Linked DNA regions of Homo sapiens. The protein of the gene in region 3 purifies or fractionates together with the protein of the main gene of each other region. This does not show direct contact. Each region holds a gene or a part of one and is shown on either strand. Other genes may lie near its edges.

Evidence for each region. The genes of interacting proteins can lie anywhere in the genome.
Region 1: the proteins of KLC1 (region 3) and KIF5C purify together in Homo sapiens (co-immunoprecipitation; 5 studies listed by BioGRID and IntAct, with this or other methods). This does not show direct contact.
Region 2: the proteins of KLC1 (region 3) and KIF5A purify together in Homo sapiens (co-immunoprecipitation; 8 studies listed by BioGRID and IntAct, with this or other methods). This does not show direct contact.

What each region holds. Positions count from the first base shown.
Region 1 is NC_000002.12:148,870,040-148,878,497, reverse strand, and holds the start of KIF5C (kinesin heavy chain), read right to left. Parts: upstream 3,272-8,458; 5' UTR 2,881-3,271; coding exon 2,755-2,880; exon of another isoform or gene 2,303-2,754; intron 1,487-2,302; exon of another isoform or gene 1,156-1,486; intron 1-1,155. UniProt on the Homo sapiens protein: Microtubule-associated force-producing protein that may play a role in organelle transport. Has ATPase activity. Involved in synaptic transmission. Mediates dendritic trafficking of mRNAs.
Region 2 is NC_000012.12:57,566,732-57,574,314, reverse strand, and holds part of KIF5A (kinesin heavy chain isoform 5A), read right to left. Parts: intron 7,190-7,583; coding exon 7,102-7,189; intron 6,822-7,101; coding exon 6,697-6,821; intron 5,353-6,696; coding exon 5,248-5,352; intron 5,060-5,247; coding exon 4,911-5,059; intron 4,781-4,910; coding exon 4,632-4,780; intron 4,329-4,631; coding exon 4,153-4,328; intron 2,995-4,152; coding exon 2,926-2,994; intron 2,255-2,925; coding exon 2,048-2,254; intron 1,736-2,047; coding exon 1,589-1,735; intron 1-1,588. UniProt on the Homo sapiens protein: Microtubule-dependent motor required for slow axonal transport of neurofilament proteins (NFH, NFM and NFL). Can induce formation of neurite-like membrane protrusions in non-neuronal cells in a ZFYVE27-dependent manner.
Region 3 is NC_000014.9:103,666,767-103,674,349, forward strand, and holds part of KLC1 (kinesin light chain 1), read left to right. Parts: intron 1-2,744; coding exon 2,745-2,832; intron 2,833-3,415; coding exon 3,416-3,517; intron 3,518-6,247; coding exon 6,248-6,421; intron 6,422-6,565; coding exon 6,566-6,665; intron 6,666-7,583. UniProt on the Homo sapiens protein: Kinesin is a microtubule-associated force-producing protein that may play a role in organelle transport. The light chain may function in coupling of cargo to the heavy chain or in the modulation of its ATPase activity.

The sequences.
Region 1 (8,458 bases), on a different chromosome or scaffold from region 3:
CACTAGCCATATTAGCCCCAAACCGGAAACTATCCAAATATCCATCAACAGTCAGTAGACAAATTGTAGTATATTCATATCATGGAATACTACAAAACAATGAGGATGAATTTGACAAGCATAACACTTAATCCCAAGAAACCACACACAAAAGAGAACATACTCTATGGTTTTATGTAATATAAAGTTAAAAAGAAACAAGCAAAACTAATAGCATCAGAAGTGAGAATCATGGTTACCCTGAAGCAGGGGGATTTAGGGACTGGAAGGGCCACAAGGGGGATTTCTAGGGTCCCAAAATGTCTGTTTCTTAGTCTGTGAGGTGGTTACAGGGAGCATTTACTTTATGAAAAGTCATCCAACTGTATACTTATGATAACAGTTTTCTATATGAATGCTTCATTTCAATAAAAAGTTTACCTTAGAAAAACTGAAAACTGTTGTATTAAAGGATTATAGTAGGATGAGCAAAACTTACTTTACGGTTGAAAAGCAATGTGTATATTCACATCTATGATTTTTATTTAAACTTCTTATTTAATATGGTGACTTGGTTTTAATTTGTTTAGCCACTAATATATGTTTATTTAGATAAGGAAATATATACTCATAGCAATGTCATATTAAAGAAGGATAATTCTAAAATTAAGGAGCTCTGCCTTGCATACAGGTCAAGGAAGATGATTTATTACTTCATTTCATTGGTTCTGGAAGAAGAAGAGGAGGAGAAGGGAGAGGGGAGAGGGGAAAGGGGATGGGGGAGGAGGGAGGAGGGGAGAAGAAAAACTTCTTCAGGCTCTTCAAAACCTCTGGGAAAAAAATAGGGTTGCCAGAACATGTTCCAGTACTGCACAATTATTTGTTTAAAAATTGTTACAAGCCAAGGGGCAGGGACTAGATGTCCCCAGTAACTCCCACTCTATCTAAACCACAGCCTGGCTCAGAAAGTAGCAGATCAGGCTGTAGGCAGATACTGGCTGAGAGCTGTAAACCAAATAAGTCACTAACTGCCCCAGGTACTGCCTATGTATATGTCACTAACACTTATCTGCCATTAACTGCAGAATTTCCTTCCTCATCAATAATCGTAGCTTATATCTTCTCTGCAAGTTTAACACTAAACAGAGAGAAAACCCCGCTTTCCTGCCCTCATAGGTCAGCTCGCAGAATGATCGCCCATCCACACAGCGTTTGGAGGTCAGACGTTCCTGATGACTGTGAAAATGGGGAGGTGAGAAGAGGTCGTCAAAGGGAGCAGCCTTTTAAAGCCAGGTACAGGTTAAAGCCCTGAGGCCAGAGCCTTGCCCAGGCTCCTCTAGCGTGGAGAGCTCCCGCCTTACGGTACAGCTGGCACCTGCTGGTCCCCAGGGCCCTTCGCTGCGACTGCGGCAGACAACCTTGGCAAAGATGCTGGGGACCGCCCGGGCTGGAAAACGTCGGCCTCTGGCGCTTGAGAAAGGCCAGGCGGACTCCTGCAATACCCTCGGTAAACTGTCACCTGTCAATCACTTGACCTAAATACACCAGCCACTGGAGGAAGGGGAGGAGGGGGTTAGTCGGAGCATGCTCAGTGATCAGGATGACATCACTTAATCAATGCTGGGGACGGGAAGGCTGCATCAGCAGCCTGGAGCAGGCTGCCAGGAACGTGTCAGCGGGGACCGGGAGGCTCCCATTAACTCGGTCCCTCCCCACGCGGCTCGCATACAAAGGGGGCACCATCAGCCACACACGCTACGGACAGCGGGCGGGGAAGGGGCGGGGGACCGAGCTGGTTTGTTTCATCTGACAGATTCCTTTAAGAACTACAATCCATTGGTGTTCCCTCCCCCTACCAGCAGCCCCAGCTGCAGAGAGGGAGCTAAGTAGGGGGAGGGGGTGGGGGAGAAAAGGTGGGGAAGGGAGATAGAGAGGGAGGGGGGTCCGAGCCGCACGAAGTAACTTCTGCTCTTGGCACAGGGGGCTACTGCGCTCTGAGCCCCCTCGCCCCACAGATGTGGACACAGCCTCCTCTCCACCCAGCGTGAGGCGCATCAGAGGGTCTGCAGACATGGGAGGGAGGTCATCCCAGAGGGGAGGGATCAAGCCGGGACTCCACATCCAGGGCAGCCAGGCGTGAGAGGAAGCGGGAGACACACCAGGCCTCCAGGGGACACCGAGGCCACCAGTACTCCCCCAACCCTCCGCCTTCCGCGCGCGGAGCCAGGTGTAACACCGCGGGGAGCCGCGTCTACACTGCCGCGGGAGCTCCGAGACGCGACTAGAAATTTTCCTGTACCCCTTTTTCTTTCTTTTTTGCTAGGGTCGTGAGAAGAAGAGGCAAGGCGTTTGGTAAATCGAATTGATTGATGCCCAGAAGCATTTGCGGGTTGCAGAGCTCACACTTTAAAGGGGGCCTGGGCACCCGGCTTGAGGGTCACCCGAACACACTACCCACGCGGCGAGGCGAGCGTGGGGAACAATGGGCCCACCCGGGCCCCCACCCGGCGAACAATGGCGGCGCCGAGCCCGTCTTCGCCCCCCATCCCCACCCCCGCCACCCCCGCCCGGCCCGCCGCTCCCGGCCGCCTCTCCACCCGCCCGGGAGGGAACCATAGTGCGCGGGGCGAGGGGTCTCTGGTCAGGTCCACCCGAGAGGCCAGCCCCGCGGGAATGTCCGAGGGGGCGGCCTAAACACCTCCGCTGCGTCTGGGGCGTCGGGGCGCCCAGCTGCGGCGCGGAGCAGCAGGGAAGGCAGACGCCCCAGCCACTTACCCCGATCACCACGGTCTCATCGCCTTTAAATTTGGGGATGAATTTGTCCCCGCGGAGGATCTCCGCTTCGTTGAGGGGCCGGAACCGGCACATCACTTTGATGCTGCATTCGGCTGGATCCGCCATCTCGGCCGGCGGTAGGGAGGGGGCACGGGGATGGGTGGGGGGCCGGGGCCGGGAACGACGAGGGAGGAGGCCGCGAGCTGCACCGCCCACAGCTAGGCCGCCTCCTGCAGCCTCCGACGACGCTTCTCAGCAGGTCATCGCGAGCCCGGCCGGCTGAGCAGCCCCGGCCGCTCCGAGCCCGGGAAGGTGGGCAGCTTCTCCGCTCCGGCCCCTCCGGCTGCAGACCGGCCTGCCCTGGCCCTGCCCCGCCCCTGCCCAGCGCCCCCCGGCCCACCTGCCCGCGACCACGCGGCGGGCGGAGGAGGCGATGCGCAGGGAGCGAGCCTCGCCCGGCTCAGACCTCCCGGGCTCCTGCGCGCTCAGCCATCCTGCATCAGCACCAGCGCGCTCTGCCGCCTTGAGACCCGCCCCTCCGCCCCGCCCTCCCCTGGCCCGCCCCGGGACGGTGACGTCACCGTAGAGGTCCGCCCGGCCCCCGCCCGACTCCGAGCGCTGCGCATCCCGGGACTTGTAGTCACTCTACCTGCCGGGGGAAGGACAGGATGCGACCTCCAAGAGCCTGCAAGTCCGGTCTGGCTGCCCAAGCCGGAACCGGATGGAGGTCATATCCAATATTTCCGGTTAAAATCTCTAGATAACTGGGTCTGGATCATCCTGATCCCAAAAGAAAATCACTTGGGAAACAGCTCCCAATAGCCCCTGGGTTTCATCCTTCAACTTCTACCACTAGATAAGGATGGATGTCTGTTCAGAGTTTGGGTTTGATTGGCCTTGGTTTAGGTTGGCATCTAGTGCTAAACCAATCAACCAGAATCAGGGATTTTGTAAGATTATGGAGGAATCCCTTGGTGGGAAGGTTCCCAAAAGAAGAGGGATGGTATTCCCAGACATGGTGCCGGGCTGGCAGAACAACTGAGTGTCCACTCTATTTTTCCAGAACTTCCTTTTCCTCTAAGACCTAGCTCAACCCTCCTTCCTCAGACTTTCCCAGCTCACTAAACACCTATAAAGAGTTGGTGGCCCTCCTTGATGTTCCCCTAATCTGCTGTGCCTGTCTCTAGCACTGCACTTGGGTGGTGATATCTGCTTGATATCTTTGTGTCTGTAGCATCTAGCACATAGTGGGCAGCATACTGAATAAGGATTCTACCCTAGGAAGAAGCAATGCATGAGTGTGAATCCCACCTCAGCCACTTATTAGATGTATGACCAACAGGCGGAGGAAATTAAGAGCGGAGGAAATTAAGAAGTCTTAATTTCCTTAAGACTCAGTTTCCTCATCTCTGTCATTGGAATAATATCATCTTGTGATTTCTGGGGGAATTAAAAGACAGATGCTTTTAAAGCACCTAGCACGGTGCCTGACATGTATATAGGATAAGCTCTTGAAAGTTAGATGTTATTGGGTGCTGAACAAATGATCATAAAACAAATAAGTTAGTTAATTTTAGGAACACATCTGTTGCTTAAATTCGGGTAATACCTGAAAATACAAGTGTTCTCTGCCTAGCTGAGAGGACAGACCTACTAAAATCAACTTTTATAAACCCTTGTAAGTAGTACCAGTTCTATTTCATCTCCTCATGTGCAGTGGAAGTAGATTAAAAAGACCCAGGTGCCACCTTCTCATCTGTTTTTAAATTAAGTAATTCTCAGGCTCTGGCTCAGAGACCCATCATCTTAAATGATCAACTTCATAATATACTAGAGAGGACAATCCAATTCTCAGTTTCCCTGAGCCCACCAGAAGATGCCCAGAACCTTGCATACACTGGTTTATCTGAGGAGGTCAGGATTATCTCAAGTGGACAGAGACGTATCTGTGTGTCACTGTGTTCAGTCATCATTCATTCGTTCATCTGTTCATTCATCAGCTATTAACTGAGCAAATGGCATTTGCTGTCACTCTGTAAACTTAGATTTATTAAGTGAACCCTTTTCAAGGGAGATAACGTAGGGCCTCTCATTTGAAGGGAGGTTGCAAAATAAGTCATCGCCCTCAGGCAGCTTAGAAACTAGTGGGAGTACAGAGGATGAAGTTCTCAGTGTTGTCTGAGAAGGCTTAATATAGGAAATGGGCTAAGTAGGATTCAAAACAATTGAAAAGGGACACCAAAAGATAGGTAACAGGCCGGGCGCCGTGGCTCACGCATGTTAATCCCAGCACTTTGGGAGGCTGAGATGGGTGGATCACTTGAGGTCAGGAGTTTGAGACCAGCCTGACCAACCTGGTGAAACCTGGTCTCTACTAAGAATACAAAAATTAGCCAGGCATGGTGGCACGTGCCTGTAATTCCAGCTAATCTGGCGACTGAGGCAGAAGAATCGCTTGAACCCAGGAGGCAGAGATTGCAGTGAGCCAGGATTGTGCCTCTGCACTCCAACCTGGGCGACAGAGTGAGTCTCCATCTCAGGGAAAAAAAAAAAAAAGATAGGTAACAGAAGAAAAAACAGATAAATTTAACTACATCAAAATTAAAACTTTTGCACATCAAAGGATGCTATGAACAGAGTGAGAAGGCAGCTCATGAAATGGGAAAAAATTTGCAAATAATACATCTGATAAGGAGTTAATATACAGAATATATAAAGAATACCTATAACTCACAACCAAAAAAAAATTTTAAAAATGGGCAAAGGATGATGAGCTGGGCTGGATTCCATCTTGGTAGCCAAGGCTAATTCTCCCTCGAGTTCTTGGGAGATGGGCCTTTGGCAAGAAGGCTGGTGTTAGTGAAGCGCACCCGACGCCACGGAAAAAACTACTTTTAAGGAAATATAGCATCTATCGTGAACGTGGAAAAGTAAAGATAATTCACCATGCCTGCTGTGGCTTTAGTTCCTAAAGAACTCTACCTGAGTTCTTCACTAAAAGACCTCAATAAGAAGACAGAAGTTAAACCAGAGAAAATAAGCACTAAGAGGATTACGTCCATTCAATACTTGGAACTGCAAACATCAAAAAAGCCATTGAAGAAGCTGAAAGACTCTCTGAGAGCCTTAAACTAAGATATAAAGAAGCTGAAGTCCGGAAATAACTTGAGGAAAAGGACAGGCAGAAGGAAGCACAGCAACTACAACAAAAAAGGCAGGAAACAGGAAGAGAGGATGGTGGCACATTGGCTAAAGTTTCTTTGGAGAATGTATTGGATTCCAAAGACAAAACCCAAAAGAGCAATGGTGAAAAGAGTGAAAAAATGTGAGACCAAAGAGAAAGGAGCAATTACAACAAAGGAACTATACACAATGATGACGGATAAAAACATCAGCTTGATTATAATGATTGCTCGAAGAATGCAGAATTATCAGGATTCCTGTATTTTACATTCTCTCAGTGTTCCTGAAGAAGCCATCAGTCCAGGGTGGGTTATTGTGTAGTAAAGTGGTAAACTGTGTAGTAAGCAGTAAACTGTGGACCTTAGTAAATGTTACTACTTAGCATTCAAGCTAAATGTGATAAAGTAGTCTTTTCCTGTTAACTTTTTAAATCTTTGCCTCTTTTTTTGGGGGGGGGCAGGGCCAGAGGGGGAGGTGCGTTTTAAGAGCAGAGGTTTAATAGGCAAAAGAAAGAAAAAGGAGAACAGGGCCGGGCTCGGTGTCTCACACCTGTAATCCCAGCACTTTGGGAGGCCGAGGCAGGTGGGTCACAAGGTCAGAAGTTTGAGACCAGCCTGATCAGAATGGTGAAACCCTGTCTGTACTAAAAATGCAAAAATTAGCCGGGCATGGTGGCATGCGCCTGTAATCCCAGCTACTCAGGAGGCTGAGTCAGGAGAATCACTTGAACCCGGGAGGCGGAGGTTGCAGTGAGCCAAGATCGCACCACTGCACTCCAGCCTAGGTGACAGAATGAGACTCTGTCGCAAAAAAAAAAAAAAAGAAAAAGGAGAACAGCTCTCTCATTTTTGAGAGTGAGAGGTGCCCAAATGGCACTTCCCTAAATCTTTGCTTCTTAAAGACACACTTTACGCTTTATGAAGGTTGAAGTTACAGATTTCCTAACTTTTGATTTGGCTGTTTTCTCCTATTTGTGGTATTTAGAATCCTATCAAAAGAGAAATGAAGTTGCCTTTTCCCTCTCTCCCCAGGTGTTTGTTGACTGATTTTTCCTATTATTTTCTGTTTATAAGCATGTGAATGATATGTACCAAATTGACTAAAATTGTGAACTAATTGAATTGTTTTACATGTTGAAATTCCCTATATTATCTGTGATACAAGAGTATCCAAATACTGTGTGTGTGCTTTAAAGAGTACAGTCTCTGATGTCAGACTCTATTCAAATAATTGTCACCTACTAGCTGCATTATTTCTAGCTAGTGACTTAGCATTTCTAAGCTCATGTTTCCATCTGTAAAATGGGGATAATAACAGAACCTATCTTACAGAGGTTTCAGGAGATTTAAATGAGAAACGTTATATATATACACACACACACACACACACACACACACACTTTAGCACAGGTCCTGGCACGAGTAAGGACTTAATTTAAAATTTTTTCTTTCTTTTTTAGTAAAAAGGCCTTTAACCTATGAAATAATTTAAAGTGACTTGCATGGGTATATTGTACAGTAGAAATCATGATAGTGGCAGAGCTAAACCTCCAGATACAGGGCTATTTTCACTATTTCGAGCATTCTTATATAGATCCTATTACCTCTCTGGGTCTTAATTTAATTTTAAAATTAGGTAATGAAATCTGTATAGTTCTTGGCATATTGCAGATGCTTGACAAATGTTTGACCTGAAGCATAGAGTGCTTTGTAAATAAGCTATTTAAAAATTAGAGCTCTTGGGCAGGGTGCAGTGGCTCACACCTGTAATCCAAGCATTTTGAAAGGCCAAAGTGGGCGGATCACTTGAGGTCAGGAGTTCCAGACCAGCCTGGCCAACATGGTGAAACCCCATCTTTACTAAAAATACTTCAGCCGGGTGTGGTGGTGCATGCCTATAATCCCAGCTACTCGGGAGGCTGAGGCAGGAGAATCGCTTGAACTTGGGAGGCAAAGGTTACAGTGAGCTGAGATCACGCCACTGCACTCCGGCCTGGGCTACAGAGGGAGACTCCGTCTCAAAAAAAAAAAAAAAAAAAAAAAAAAAAGTTAGAGCTCTTTGAGGAAGACACCGTCGAAAGTGGTGCCGAGCTGTGGTCTGCCCGCTTCTGCTCCTGCTCCTGACTCACTGCTGTTGCTCTCGCCAAGGAACCAGTCGGTCAGGAAGCCACGCAGCAGCTGTGGCTTTTAAAGATACTGGAAAAACACCCTTGGAGCCGGAGGTGGCAATTCACTGAATTCGAATCACTGTTTATGAGCCACAGCTTAAAATCCCTGGAGGAGGTGTGTGCTGACTTGATCAGAGGAGCAAAGGAAAGGAATCTCAAAGTGAAAGGACCAGTTCAAATGCCTACTAAGACTTCGAGAATCGCTACAAGAAAAACTCCTTTTGGTGAAGGTTCTAAGACATGGGATCATTTCCAGATGAGAATCCACAAGCAACTCATTGACTTGCACAGCCCTTCTGAGATTAAGCAGATTACTTCCATCAGTATGGAGCCAGGAGTTGAGGTGGAAGTCAT
Region 2 (7,583 bases), on a different chromosome or scaffold from region 3:
GGCAACAGAGCAAGACTCCATCTCAAAAAAAAAAAAAAATCCAATTCTGACAGTCCCCCACTTACAAATAAATCTTATAAAGCAACATGATTTTCTTTTGATCTCCTTGATCACCCAGATTATTCTCACATCCACAGATTTGCATATTTCATTCTGAACTCTGTGCCTATGCCCCACCTCTAACTCCTACTGCAAGCACTGCTCTGTTGCTGCTGCTTTTTTTTTTTTTTTTTGAGACAGAGTCTCCCTCTGTCACCCAGGCTGGAGTGCAGTGCCGCATCTCTGCTCACTGCAAGCTCCGCCTCCCAGGTTCACGCCATTCTCCTGCCTCAGCCTCCTGAGTAGCTGGGACTACAGGCGCCCGCCACCATGCCTGGCTAATTTTTTGTATTTTTTTAGTAGAGACAGGGTTTCACTGTGTTAGCCAGGATGGTCTCAATCTCCTGACCTCGCCTCGGCCTCCCAAATTTTTTTTTTTTTTTTTTTGAGACGGAGTTTCACTCTTGTTGCCCAGGCTGGAGTGCAATGGTGCAATCTCGGCTCACTGCAACCTCCGCCTCCAGGTTCAAGCGATTCCCCTGCCTCAGCCACGTGAGTAGCTGGGATTACAGGCATGAGCCACCACACCCGGCTAATTTTATATTTTTAGTAGACACGGAGTTTCTCCATGTTGAACAGGCTGGTCTCGAACTCCTGACCTCAGGTGATCCACCCGCCTCGTCCTCCCAAAGTGCTGGGATTACAGGCGTGAGCCACCATGTACAGCCTCTTTTTTTTTTTTTTTAAGACAAGGTCTGGCTCTGTCACCCAGGCTGGATTGCAGTAGCTCAATCATGTCTCACTGCAGCCTCAACCTCCCATACTCAGGTGATTCTCCCACCTCAGCCTGTCAAGTAGCTGGTACTATAGGTGTGTGCCACCACCCCCAGCTAATCGTTTGTATTTTTTGTAGAGATAGGGTTTCACTATGTCACCCAGGCTGGTCGTGAACTCCTGGGCTCAAGCGATCCGCCTGTCTCAGCCTCCCAAAATGTTGGGATTACAGGCATGAACCACCATGCCTGGCCTCCATTGCTTCTTTATTCAGCACCCGTTAGAATTTAGTTTTGTTTTGTTTTGTTTTTAAGGCAGAGTCTCACTCTATAACCCAGGCTAGAGTGCAGTGGTGTGATCTCAGTTCACTGCAACCTCTACCTCCCAGGTTGAAGCGATTCTCCTGCCTCAGTCTCCTGAGTAGCTGGAATTACAGGTGCACATCACCACGCCTGGCTAATTTTTGTATTTTTAGTAGAGACAGGGTTTCGCCATGTTGGCGAGGTCAGGTCTCGAACTCCTGACCTCAAGTGATCCGCCTGCCTCGGCCTCCCAAAGTGCTGGGATTACAGCGGTGAGCCACTGCGCCCAACCTAGAATGTATCTTTTCAATTGGGTCTATACAAGCCTCTACCTGTCTTCCTGGGTCTAGTTCAAAGGCATGTTTCCTGGCTCTCTGGCTGCCTTTCTCAGTATCTGTGAAGGCCTGGATGGCTCATCTTGCGTCTTCCACTAGTGCCCAGCCTGAACAAGGCTGCTGTCTCTCACCACTCACCAGCTTAATCTCCCCGTTGCCCACAATGACACTGAACTCGCTCAGATCCTTCATCAGCCCGTTCAGCACCTCAGCAATTCGTTTTCGCTGGTGTCCACTGACCTCCTGTAGCCGCTGCAACTCAGACTCCAGGGACAGCATGGTGGCCTGGGGACAGCCCCTCAGGTCATTCCTGTTGCCATCCTCCTGCTCCCTTGCCCAGCCCAGGCAGAGGCCTCTCCCTTCATGCAAGACCCTGAGGGCTGCTATGAAGAGAACACAGGCCCTGCAGAAGAGTCTGAAAGACAGAGGGACTGTGAGGGGAAAGTGCAGTGACAGGGTTGGGGAGGGACTCACAATGCACTGAACAGCAGTGCAGAGGTGCAGCCACCATACAGCCCTGGAAGGATGCAGAGGTCCCCTCGACATGGGAGATGTTCTGTGGTCAGGGAGCTGTTGGACCATTGGCACACCACTTACCACCTTCTGAGACAGCTCATCCACCAGAAGCTGGTTCTGCTGGCTCTTCTCCTCCACCTCCTGGGACTTCTGGTCATAGTTCACAGCCAGCTCCTCCAGGGCCTGCAGCACTTCCTTCACCTCATCCTTAGCGGCATCGTTCTCTGATTGCAGGTGGCTCAGCTCCCGCTGGACCTTCTCGTTGTCTCCTCGGGTGGACACCAGCAGCTTCAAGGGAGAGGAGTGGCATGTGGGAAAGATCACTGCCAGTGACCATTTCTATGGCCTTGGGTCTGGGAAGCTGAGCCCCCACCCTACCCAAAATAAAGAGTTAAGAGGAAGTGGGCTTTAGGTTTCATAGAAATAGGGCAACAGAATGAAGAATGAAGAAGCCCCCAGACTTTAAAATTTGTGCTTTAAGAAAAGCCCCAGCCGGGCGCAGTGGCTCACGCCTGTAATCCCAGCACTTTGGGAGGCCTAGGTGGGCACATTGCCTGAGCTCAGGAGTTCGAGACCAGCCTGGGTAACATGGCAAAACTCCATCTCTACAAAAATTAGCCATGTGTGGTGGTGCACTTGTAGTCCCAGCTACTTAGGGGGCTGAGGCAGGAGGACTGCTTGACCCTGGAAGATCGAGGCTGCAGTGAGCTGAGATTGCCCCACTGCATTCCAGCCTAGGTAACAAATTGAGACTCCATCTCTAAAAAAAAAAAAGAAAAGAAAAAAGGAAAAGAAAAGAAAAGCCCCAGTGAGGTTCCCAGACTTCTGCTGTTTAGGGGAGTGATTAATCCCCAAGCAGAAAGCGCCTTCTTCCATCTGATTTTAAAAAGGTCTATTCCATGCCTTCCAGTGATGAACAGAACCCCTTTCCTCTCATGTCCTGCCCTCCCTCCTATTACCTCTTCCTGGTCCAGCATTTGCTGCTTGAGCTTCTCTATGAGTTGGCTTTGTTGGTTGATTTCATCATCCTGTTGGAGGCAACAGGGAAAGACAGGTGAAGGGAAGCTACTCCTTCCAGTTTAGACGTAAGAAGTTTGGGGGTAGAGGCAGGATCCTGATAAAAATCCAGATAGTATAAGCTTTGAGTTAGAAACCCCATATCCTACAGGAAGATCGGTTGAAGCCAGGAGTTCAAGGCCAACCTGGGCAACATAGTGAGACCCTGTCTCTACAAAAAATTTAAAATATTAGCTAGCCTGGTGGTGCATGCCTTTAATCCCAGCGCATTGAAAGGCCAAGGCGGGAGGATCGCTTGAGGCCAGGAGTTTGAGACCAGCCTGGGCAACAAAGTGAGACTCCAACTCTACCAAAAAAAAAAAAAAAAAAAAATTAGCTGGGCGTGGTGGTGTGCACCTGTAGTCCCAGCTCTTTCAGAGGCTGAGGTTGGGGGGGATCCCTCGAGCCCAGGAGTTTGAGGTTGCAGTGAGCTATTACTGCACCACTGCACTTCAGCCCGAGTAACAAAGCAAGACTCTTTCTCTCAAAGCAAAATAATAATAATAAATGAAAATAAAAATACTTTTATGAAGAATTATTAATGAAGTAGGAAATTGTGCATAATATAATGCTGAATGAAAAAAATCAGATGTATAATTACATATACAGGCCGGGCACGGTGGCTCACGCCTGTAATCCAAGCACTTCAGGGGGCCGAGGCGGGCGGATCGCCAGAGGTCAGCCTAGCCAACATGGTGAAACCCCGTTTCTACCAAAAATACAAAAATTAGCCAGGCGTGGTGGCATGCGCCTGTAATCCCAGCTACTCTGGAGGCTGAGGCAGGAGAATCACTTGAACCCGAGAGGCAGAGGTTGCAGTGAACCACAATCGTGCCTCTGCACTCTAGCCTGGGCGACACAGCAAGACCCTGTCTCAAAAAAAAAAATTACTTATACAGTATAACTCAATTGCATGGTATATGCACAGAGAAAAGCAAAATGTTGAGTGTTATCTCTGAATAGTGGATGATTTTAATTTTCTTACATACATTTATATTGATGTTTCCACATTTCAAGCATAAGCATTTATCCCTTTTAAAACCAGAAAGAGGCAATATAAGCGATTTTCTTTGATCGTCTACCTCTCATCCCACCTGGCGTGCCTCAGTGCCCTGCCTGGCCGCCCTCACCTTGTCGTCAAGCTGCTTATAGAGACGGCGGATCTCCTCCTCGTATTTCTGCCGCTCCTCGGGCGCGATGCGCACCACGATGGATGAGTTGTCATTCACAGGGGTCTCCTCACAGAGCTCGGCTCCCAGGGCTGCCTCCTCCCCAGCCAGGCGCTCTGTCTCAGGCACATTCTCTCCTGCAAAGGGGCAAGACGAGGTGAGAGATGGAAGAAGAAGAAGCTGCATCCACGAGTTCTTCCTTCTCACTCACCATGCCCCTTGAACTCTCTTGCCAGGTGGACCCTCTACCTTTTGGGAGTATGGGAGGTAGGTAGTCAGGCCCCTCCCTTCCCCCATGACTGCTCTACTGCACCTGTCCAGAAACACAGCCCCTCTTCTAGGAGATTGGCCTGGCCAGAAACACCACCCAAACAGAGTTGGCTCCCAAACATCCTCCTCCTCTTCCCACTGCCCCTCACTCCCACCTATCCCTCTCTAACCATTGCGCCACCGGCTCAGCTCAGCCTCCAGCTTCGCAATCGTCTCCTTCTGGGCCTTTGTCTTCTCCTTCTCCTTCTCATATTTCTTCTTCCACTGCTCAGCAGTCAACTCCAAATTTACTGAGGCAGTGTTCTTAATGGTCTTTGCCCTGGGTGAGGAGAAGAGGAACAAAGAAATGAGAGCAACATGAGACTTGGGTGACCCTGAGGAGAGAGAGCCGCAGAGGCTGGGATGGGAAGCTGGGTACCAGGGATCCCTCTGGGGACCCTGCCACTGACCGCTGCCCAAACATCAGGGTGGACTTGGTCTCTGCATCATTATAACTGGATGGTGAGCAACAGATGAACATAGTCGTCCGGCAGTTTCCCCCGAGAGAGTCCTGGAGAATCCTTGTCATTTTGCTGTCACGATATGGAACATAGCTTTTCTGGGGGAGGAAGGAGACCAGGAATCAGAAATAAACAAATAAAATTCAACAGGGAATCAGAAAGGATAGTGGTGCCACCCCGGGATCAGACAACCCATGAATTGGGGCATGATCATATGGTGGCATTAGCAGGTGGGGGAGGAGATGGGGTGTGGCTTGAGGGGTGAGGGGACCTAAGGATCACTCACAGTGCCCTCAGCCAGTGCGGAGATCACATTGCCCAGAGCTGACAGTGACTTGTTGATATTCTTTGCCTCGTCCAGCACGGCTCCCTCTGCTCCAGTCTTGCTGACCTACCAGGGCAGTAAGAGATGAGTGTGTATGAGCAGCTGCACATGGAGAGGGCTGTCACCACCTCGTTCCAGGGCTCAGTCCACGGAGGAAGGAAGGAACAGGGAAGAAGATGGAGTAACAGAGATGCTTGGCTGGGATTGGGGAAGGCCCTTCCTCTGTTCCCCTAAACTGTCTTGTCAAACACCACATTGCCCCTAACCCCTGCCACATATTACATGATTCCTTTTTTTTTTTTTGAGATGGAGTTTCACTCTTGTTGCGCAGGCTGGAGTGCAATGGTGCGATCTCAGCTCACCACAACCTCCGCCTCCCAGGTTCAAGCGGTTATCCTGCCTCAGCCTCCTGAGCAGCTGGGATTACAGGCATGTGCCACCACGCCCAGCTAATTTTGCATTTTTTGTAGAGATGGGGTTTCTCTATGTTGGCCAGGCTGGTCTCGAACTCCCGACCTCAGGTGATCCACCCACCTCGGCCTCGCAAAGTGCTGGGATTACAGGTGTGAGCCACCGTGCCCAGCCATATGATTCCATTTATATGAAATGTTCAGGATAGGCAAATCCATAGAGACAGAAAGTAGATTAGAAGTTGACAGGGGATGGGGTTAGGGGACAATGGAGAGTGACTGTGAATAGAAGATGACAGTGCTCTAGAATTGGATAGCGTAATGGTTGCACAACCTTGGGAACATACTACAAACAACTGAATTGCACTTTAAAATGGTGAACTTTATGGTATGTGAATTATATCCCAATGCAAATCATTTTTTAGTTAAAAAAGAGTCGGCCGGGCACAGTGGCTCATGCCTGTAGTCCCAGCACTTTGGGAGGCCGAGGCAGGTGGATCCCGAGGTCAGGAGTTCGAGACCAGCCTGGCCAACATGGTGAAACCCCGTCTCTACTAAAAATACAAAAATTAGCTGGGCTTGGTGGCGGGAGCCTGTAATCCCAGCTACTAGGGAGGCTGAGGCAGGAAAATCACTTGAACCTGGGAGGCAGGGGTTGCAGTGAGCTGAGAGCGTGCCACTGCACTCCAACCTGGGTGACAGAGCAAGAATCCGTCTCAAAAAAAAAAAAAGAGCCAAGGACCAGCCTGGCCAACACAGTGAAATCCCCTCTCTACTAAAAATACAAAAAATTAGCCAGGCGTGGTGGTGGGCACCTGTAATCCCAGCTACTTGGAAGGTTTAGGCAGGAGAATCACTTAAACCCAGGAGGCGGAGGTTGCAGTGAACAGAGATCGTGCCACTGCAAACCAGCCCGGGCGACAGAGTGAGACTCTGTCTCAAAAAAAAAAAAAAAAAGAGCCAAGGCTTCCACCCACCCCATATCCACAGGACCCCCTACCTTCTCACTCCCTGCCAGGTCCACCAGATACAGCTTCCCACTGAGCTTCTGCTCCGTTTCCATGTTCTCCTGCTTGATGTTGATGAGGAAGATGCTGTGGCTCCGAGAGCTGTGTTCATTCATGTCTGCAGGAGCAAGGGAGAAACAGGACCTGCACCACCCTGCAGAACTGAGGTCCTCAGCCCCCGGCTTCCACTGACCCCAGCCCCGCCCACCCAGAGAGAAGGTGCCCACCAGGACTAGCCCTGCTGCCACATCTCCCAGGCAGCAGGGTCCCACAGACAAGGGGTCCTCCTCCTCTGGGGGGTACAGTTTCCTTGCTCACTTTTGAGTCCCTCCACCCCAGAGGACACAGAACACAAGTGGATCCTCAGACTCGAGAGATCCCCTTGTATCCTCACTCACTGGTGACAGCCACATGACGATTTGATTTCCCTTCATCAATCACATCCAGAATCTCCTCCGGGCTGGACACAAAGCGTTCAGTACAACCCTGTGGGGGACAAATGGACAGTGACCCATAAGCTTTGTTTTTTAAGTTTGTATTTATTTATTTATTTTTATTATTATTATTTTCTTTTGAGATGGAGTCTCGCTCTGCCCAGGCTGGAGTGCAGTGTCAAGAATCTCAGCTCACTGCAACCTCCACCTCCCAGGTTCAAGCGATTCTCTTGCCTCAGCCTCCAGAGTAGCTGGGATTACAGGCATGAGCCAACACGCCCGGCTAATTTTTGTATTTTTAGTAGAGACGGGGTTTCACCATGTTGGTCAGGCTGGTCTCAAAGTCCTGACCTCGTGATCCGCCTGCCTTGGCCTCCCAAAGTGCTGGGATTACAGGCTTGAGCCACCATGCCCTGCTTTGTATTTATTTTTATCTTACGTATTTA
Region 3 (7,583 bases):
TTTTTTCTTTCTTTTTTTTTTTTTTTTTGATACGGAGTCTTGCTCTGTCGCCCGGGCTGGCATGCAATGGCATCATCTTGGCTCATTGCAACCTCTGCCTCCCAGGTTCAAGCGATTCTCCTGCCTCAGCCTCCCTAGTAGTTGGGATTACAGGTGCCCGCCAGCATGCCCAGCTAATTTTTTTTATTTTTAGTAGAGACAGGGTCTTATCATTCTTGGTCAGGCTGGTCTCAAACTCCTGACCTCAGGTGACCCACCCGCCTTAGCCTCGCAAAGTGTTGGGATTACAGGCGTGAGCCACCATGTCCGGCCTCATTTAATTCTCATAACACTTTAGGTAGCTTATTTTATTTTATTTTTTTTACACGGAGTTTCACTCTTGTTGGCCAGGCTGGAGTGCAATGGCACAATCTCAGCTCACTGCAACCTCTGCCTCCTGGGTTCAAGCGATTCTTCTGCCTCAGGCTCCCGAGTAGCTGGGATTACAGGTGCCTGCCACCACACCCAGCTAATTTTTGTATTTTTAGTAGAGACAGGGTCTTGCTATGTTGGTTGATCTTGAACTCCTGACCTCGGGTGATCTACCCGCCTCAGCCTCCCAGAGTGCTGGGATTACAGGCGTGAGCCACCGTGCCCAGCCTTGGTAGCTTATTTTTAAATTGCATTTGCTACAATTCTCCTGCCTCAGCCTCCCGAGTAGCTGGGACTACAGGTGCATGTCGCCAGGCCTGGCTAATTTTTTGTATTTTAGTAGAGATGGGGTTTCACTGTGTTGCCCAGGCTTGTCTTGAACTCCTGAGCTCAGGCAGTCTGCCCGCCTCAGCCTCCCAAAGTGCTAGGATTGCAGGTGTGAGCCACCGCACCTGGCCACTACTTTTTGGAACTCTATTTTGTACTTGCTGACTTTCACAAAAAGTTTGAGGCAGCTTACAATAGGATGTAATAGGATGAAAGAAGAAACAACAATATATTAATACGTGGCCAGAATTAGTGTGCTTCAGAGGTTGTAGAAGCCTTATTAACCTTTCTCACGTTTTTCAGGGGAAAGCCTTGCCAGGCAGTTACTACTACTCAATTGAGAAAGATGTGTGCTAAGTCTCAAAAGCAAGTACTTGTTCTCAGTCACATCAGTAGTGAGTAGCACGCTTAAACTGAGAGTTTCTGGTTCTGGGGTGTTTCTGTTTTACTCCAATCAAGAAAGATTCTTCGTTCCTCCATACTCAACAAAATGGAGGGAGACTGGGTACCAAGTTCAGACACAACAATATATTTACTTTTGTTTGTTGTTTTTTAAAATATTTTTTCAGTATACATGTAGCATATCATCTTCTTACAGCAAGACTGTGCAATAGATCATATACTTGCTTTGTAGATGGGAAGGCTGGGACTGCGTGAGGTCACGTAATGCACCCAAAGCCATGTAGCCATTAACTGGTAGAGCCCAAGCTCAGACACTAGAATTAATTCTGTCTGAAACCAAATGCAAGCTTGGTCCATTGTTCTAGACTGTTGCACTTATTCTGTGCTGGCCAGCTGGCATAGGCAGGACAACACTGTAGTGTGGGGACATTATCTTCCCAGTGGCCTAGATGGGAAGGTTAAGTTCAGAAGCTAGTTGGGTCTGATTCCAGAGTTCACCTTGCCAGTCCATTTATTGGTGGATTTCCTTCCAGTGTTTTTTCCCCATCCATAAGCTTGTGGTTTTTCTTTTTTCTTTTTTTTTTCTTTTGAGACGGAGTCTTGCTCTGTCACCCAGGCTTTAGTGCAGTGGCGCGATCTATGCTCACTGCAAGCTCCGCCTCCCGGGTTCACATCATTCTCCTGCCTTAGCGTCCCCAGCAGCTGGGACAACAGGCGCATGCTGCCATGCCCGGCTATTTTTTTTTGTATTTTTAGTAGAGACAGGGTTTCACTGTGTTAGCAAGGATGGTCTCGATCTTCTGACCTCGTGATCCGCCCGCCTCAGCCTCCCAAAGTGTTGGGATTACAGGCGTGAGCCACCACACCCATCTTTTTATTTATTTATTTTTTGAGACAGTCTCACTCTGTCGCCTAGGCTGGAGTGCAGTGGCACGATCTCTGCTCACTGCAAGCTCCACCTCCCAGGTTCACGCCATTCTCCTGCCTCAGCCTCCCGAGTAGCTGGGACTAAAGCCGCCTGCTACCACACCCGGCTAATTTTTTTGTATTTTTAGTAGCGATGGGGTTTCACCATGTTAGCCAGGATGGTCTCGATCTCCTGACCTCGTGATCTGCCCGCCTCAGCCTCCCAAAGTGCTGAGATTACAGGCATGAGCCACTGCACCCGGCCCTGTGGTTTTTCTTAAATAGTTTAAGCTTAACTTTTATTTCTGTAGTTGAAAATTACATTTAAAAAAGCTGTAGTGAGGCCGGGCACGATGGCTCATGCCTGTAACCCCAGCACTTTGGGAGGCCTAGGCGGGTGGATCATGAGGTCAGGAGTTTGAGACCACCCTGGCCAACATGGTGAAATCCCGTCTCTACTAAAAATACAAAAATTAGCCGGGCGTGGTGACAGATGCCTGTAATCCCAGCTACTCAGGAGGCTGAGGCAGAGAATTGCTTGAACCCGTGAGGCGGAGGTTGCAGTGAGCCAAGATGGCACCACTGCACTCCAACCTGTGCAACAGAGTCAGACTCTGTCTAAAAAAAAAGAAAAGAAAAGAAAAGAAAAGCTGTAGTGATCTACATCTGAAACACTTAATGTGTGTTTTTCCATTTAGGGATCAGAATAAATACAAAGATGCAGCTAACCTACTGAATGATGCCTTGGCTATTCGTGAGAAAACTTTGGGCAAAGATCATCCTGCGGTTTGTATATCCAGTTCTTTCATTCTTTTAATATTTTATTTTCCCCATATATTTCTTTTATCCAACTCATTTTACCATTAAACTCAACAGGGAAAGTTTAAGTGCTGCCTTTTCCCTAGATGGTGCAGGTAGGAGGTCTTCACTTACTCAGTGCTAGTGACAGGCCAGAGCACACTTAATTTGTTTATGACCCCACCTCAAATGGATCACCAACTGTATTGTTTGATTGTAAATCAAATTGCATGTCCTTCTAGAAATTTTTTTCTGAAAATTATATTGTCTTCATTAAAATCTGGTCAGATTTGCATATGAATCTGTTTTGGTTGGCTTTGTGGCTTCCAGGGAAATTTTTAAAAAGTCAGGAATACGTTGTTGATTTGTTTAATTTTAGTATTCTGCAGTGTTACTTTGTATAATCTATACTCTAGTGAATTGCGCTTTTCATTTTAACTGAAGTCATATTGTTCTATCCGACTAAGAATGCTTTACTGTATAGATTGAATATAAATGAATATGTGGTGTATAAATGTACTCTTATTTGGTTATCTTTTACCATTCTTAGTGGTTCTCTCTGTGTTGACAGGTGGCGGCGACTTTGAATAACCTTGCAGTCCTTTATGGTAAAAGAGGGAAGTACAAAGAAGCAGAGCCGTTGTGTAAAAGAGCTCTGGAAATCCGAGAAAAGGTACAAAAGAAGGGGGCAGTCGTTTTCTTTGAGATTTTTGTTTTGTGTGTGTGTGGTTTTTTTTTTTTTTTTGAGATGGAGTCTCGTTCTGTCACCGGGCTGGAGTGCGGTGGCGTGATCTCGGCTCACTGCAACCCCCACCTCCATGGTTCAGGTGATTCTTCTGCCTCGGCCTTCCAAGTAGCTGGGACTACAGGGACACACCACCACGTCCACCTAATTTTTGTATTTGTAGTAGAGATGGGGTTTCACCATGTTGGCCAGGATGTTCTCAATCTCTTGACCTCCTGATCCGCCCGCCTTGGCCTCCCAAAGTGCTGGGATTACAGGCTGAGCCACTGTGCCCGGCGCTGTTTTTTGTGTTTTTAAAAATTTTTCGGTTTTAGGTTTTGAGAAATAACCACTGTGATGTGTTTTTAACTGACTATTAGCTGAAAACAACTCATTTAATTAGAGAATAGCCCACAAAACAAAGCCAGATTGGCCCATACAAATCAGTGTTTAAGACTCAATTACAGGCTGGGTGCAGTGGCTCATGCTTGTAATCCCAGCACTTTGGGAGGCCAAGGTGGGAGGATCACTTGAGCCTAGGAAGTTTAAGACCAGCCTGGGTAACATAGTGAGACCTCGTCTCTAAAGAAAAAAAAAAGAAAAGAAGGTCCAGTTATGAGGCGTGTGCATTTAGAAAGGTGCAGTCCTGAGTCTGATGCTGTCCAAGCCTGATATGGCCTAGAAGTGACTCTGATTGAAGAAGACATGTCTGAGGACTAGAGATGGAAAGCCTGGGAGCATTGCATTTGACAGTGGAACATGTGCTTGTCAATAAGAAAAACATGATTAAAGATAAATTCACCAAATATGCTTTATGAAGCTGAAAAATGAAATAATTATTATTATAACTAAAGATTAACTCAGAGCTATAGATTAAGTCAATGTCATATATATTTAATACCAGCTGCTACAGTTCATGGTAATTAGGTATTAAAAAATATAACAACTTGTTCATTTCAGCAGTGCTGTGTATGACAATCTCTTTAGATGTTATGAAGATTCGGGTATTGGGTCTATCCGATGAGTGACCACAAATTGTGTTTTTTTTTTTCTGAAACGGAGTCTTGCTGTGTCGCCCAGGCTGGAGTGCAGTGGCACGATCTCGGCTCACTGCAGCCTTCGCCTCCTGGATTCCAGGAATTCTCTTGCCTCAGCCTCCTGGGTAGCTGGGATTACAGGCATGTGCCACAACACCCGGCTAATTTTTGTATTTTTTAGTAGAGATGGGGTTTCACCATGTTGGCCAGGCTGGCCAAGAACTCCTGACCTTAGGTGATCCATCTGCCTTAGCCTCCCACAGTGCTAGGATTACAGGCATGAGCCACTGCACCCAGCCGCACAAATGGTATTTTAACCTGGTATTTTTTGTGATTATTTATCAGTGATTCTTATCAGTTAATTTTGAGCCACATGGCAAGGAATTGGGGGAGAGAAAATAAAAAGGGGCTCCTTATCAAATTATACAGGTAATATTTTATCATGCTGTCAATCTGCATGATATTTCTGAAATAGAATGGTTGAATTTGGGGTGGGCTGGAGTTAAAGTCAGGGAGAGCACAAAAGTATCAAATTAAGGATTAGGAACCATATAAGATGACCTGCCAAATTCATTCATATATTTACCCTTTCATTCATTTAGAGCCCCCTGCTTAGAGTTGGTGATTTACAGATCAGACATGTAGTTCCTCCCACTAGGACACAGTCCACTGGACAGACTGAGGACCGCAGAGGGCACATCAGCATCTAGAATAGAGAGCTCTGGGAGGATATGAAGTGTGGGCTTCTGCGGGCCAGAGCCAGGGGGTGTTGGGGATGGTTTCTCAGGGAAGGTCGGTGTTGGAACTGCATCTTGAATAATTGAGTTAAAAGTGTCCTAGGCAGGGGGAGGTAGGGAATGCAGAAGGGAGTAGAAAGGCAGCTTACCTCCCTGAGGACCACATGTGTAAAGGCACAAAGCGGAGAGAACTCATCACTTGTTCAAGGTACTGAGGGAGGAGGTTAGTGTTCATTCATCTATCTCTGTGCCAGACCCCTTTTTCGATGCGGAGATTACATTGGTGAAGAAGAGAGACAAAGAATTTATACTCTTGGGGCTTACATTGTAATAAAAAATATTCAAGGTAGTTTAGAGAAGTGATTCTTATAAAGAACAACCAGGTGATGTGCCTGTGAGTTCACTAGGTGAGGTGGGGTGGTATAGGGAAGTCTCCTTTGAGGGGAACTGAGGAGAACCCTGAAGGATAAGTCGTAGCTAGTAGGGAGGGCTAGGAGAAGAGCATCCTGGGCAACTGGGACAGCTGTGGGCTCTTCAGAAGCTGGCAGTAAAACTCACATAGCCTTTACAAAGCCCATTTCCTTATCTTCAAAATGTGCCTAATGTGTACATTTGTACATAGTACAACCAATGTACAAAAATATAACTACCATGAAGGATTACTACAGTAATTAACACAGCTAAAGAAGATGAGCACAGTTCCCTCCCTCCCCTCATGAATAAGAATTTGAGAAATTCTGGTTATTTTATTACTACGTGGTGTAGCGAGCCAGTTAAGGATTTAAATCTGAAAGTGTAGCACAGTCGTGCTTATGTTGAGGAAGATCCTGATGTGACAGTAGGGTGGAGAATGGATTGGATGGAAGCAGAACAAGTGTCTCTAATATGCTGTTTTTTATTTTCAGGTTTTGGGGAAGGATCACCCCGATGTTGCCAAGCAGTTAAATAACTTGGCCTTACTGTGCCAGAACCAGGGCAAGTATGAAGAAGTAGAATATTATTATCAAAGAGCCCTCGAGATCTACCAGACAAAACTGGGACCTGATGACCCCAACGTGGCTAAGACGAAAAATAACCTGGTGTGTTGACTGCACAGCACTAGGGAGGGGGCCAGGAGTGCTTTCGTCCCAAGTCCAAACACTTTCTCATTTAACTGGAGATTAAAATGTATGCTTTATTTACATCTGAAAGATATGAAATATTTTATTTTATTTTATTTTAAGGCATCCTGCTATTTGAAACAAGGAAAGTTCAAGCAAGCAGAAACACTGTACAAAGAGATTCTCACTCGTGCACATGAAAGGGAGTTTGGTTCTGTAGATGGTAAGAAATATACTCCCGTTTCAAGTGAATTTAATTGTATAATGACTTGACTAATAGTAATATACTAATAGTATTAGTTACTGTTTATTAAGCACTTAACTTTGTACATCACTAAGCTAAATAGTTTAAATGTGTGATTTCACTTCACTTTCACAGCAGTCTTGTGCAGCGGGTCAAACATTACCCCATTTTAAAAGCAAGGATACCACAGGCCGGGCGTGGTGGCTCACGCCTGTAATTCCAGCACTTTGGGAGGCCGAGGTGGGTGGATCACGAGGTCAGGCGATCGAGACCATCCTGGCTAACACAGTGAAACCCCGTCTCTACTAAAAATACAAAAACTTAGCCGGGTGTGATGGCGGCCGCCTGTAGTCCCAGCTACTCGGGAGGCTAAGGCAGGAGAATGGCGTGAACCCGGGAGGCGGATCTTGCAGTGAGCCGAGATCGTGCCACTGCACTCCAGCCTGGGCAACAGAGTGAGACTCTGTCTCAAAAAAAAAAAAAGACACCACAGACTAAGTGACTTGTGTGAGGCCCCGTAGCTGAGAAGCAGTTAGACTGGGATTACAGTGCCCAGAGCCCATAACATGTCCTCATTGCAGAGACCTATACAGTTCACGCAGAAATGGAGACAGGAGCATCACCCAAATCCATCTTCATGTCCTCATTGCAGAGACCTACCCAATTCATGCAGAAATGGAAACAGGAGAATCACCCAAATTCATCTTTTCACATTTTTAATGTCTTTCCTTCCTTCTGTGCCTTTGGTTTACAGATTTCAAACCATACCGTCCATATCATCATGTATACTGCTTATTTTCTTTACATTTTTAGTGTGAGTACCTTTCAGTCATAAAAATATTTTCATAAACATTACTTTTAAGGTGGCTTTTTCCTCCATAGCATGGGTCTGTTGGT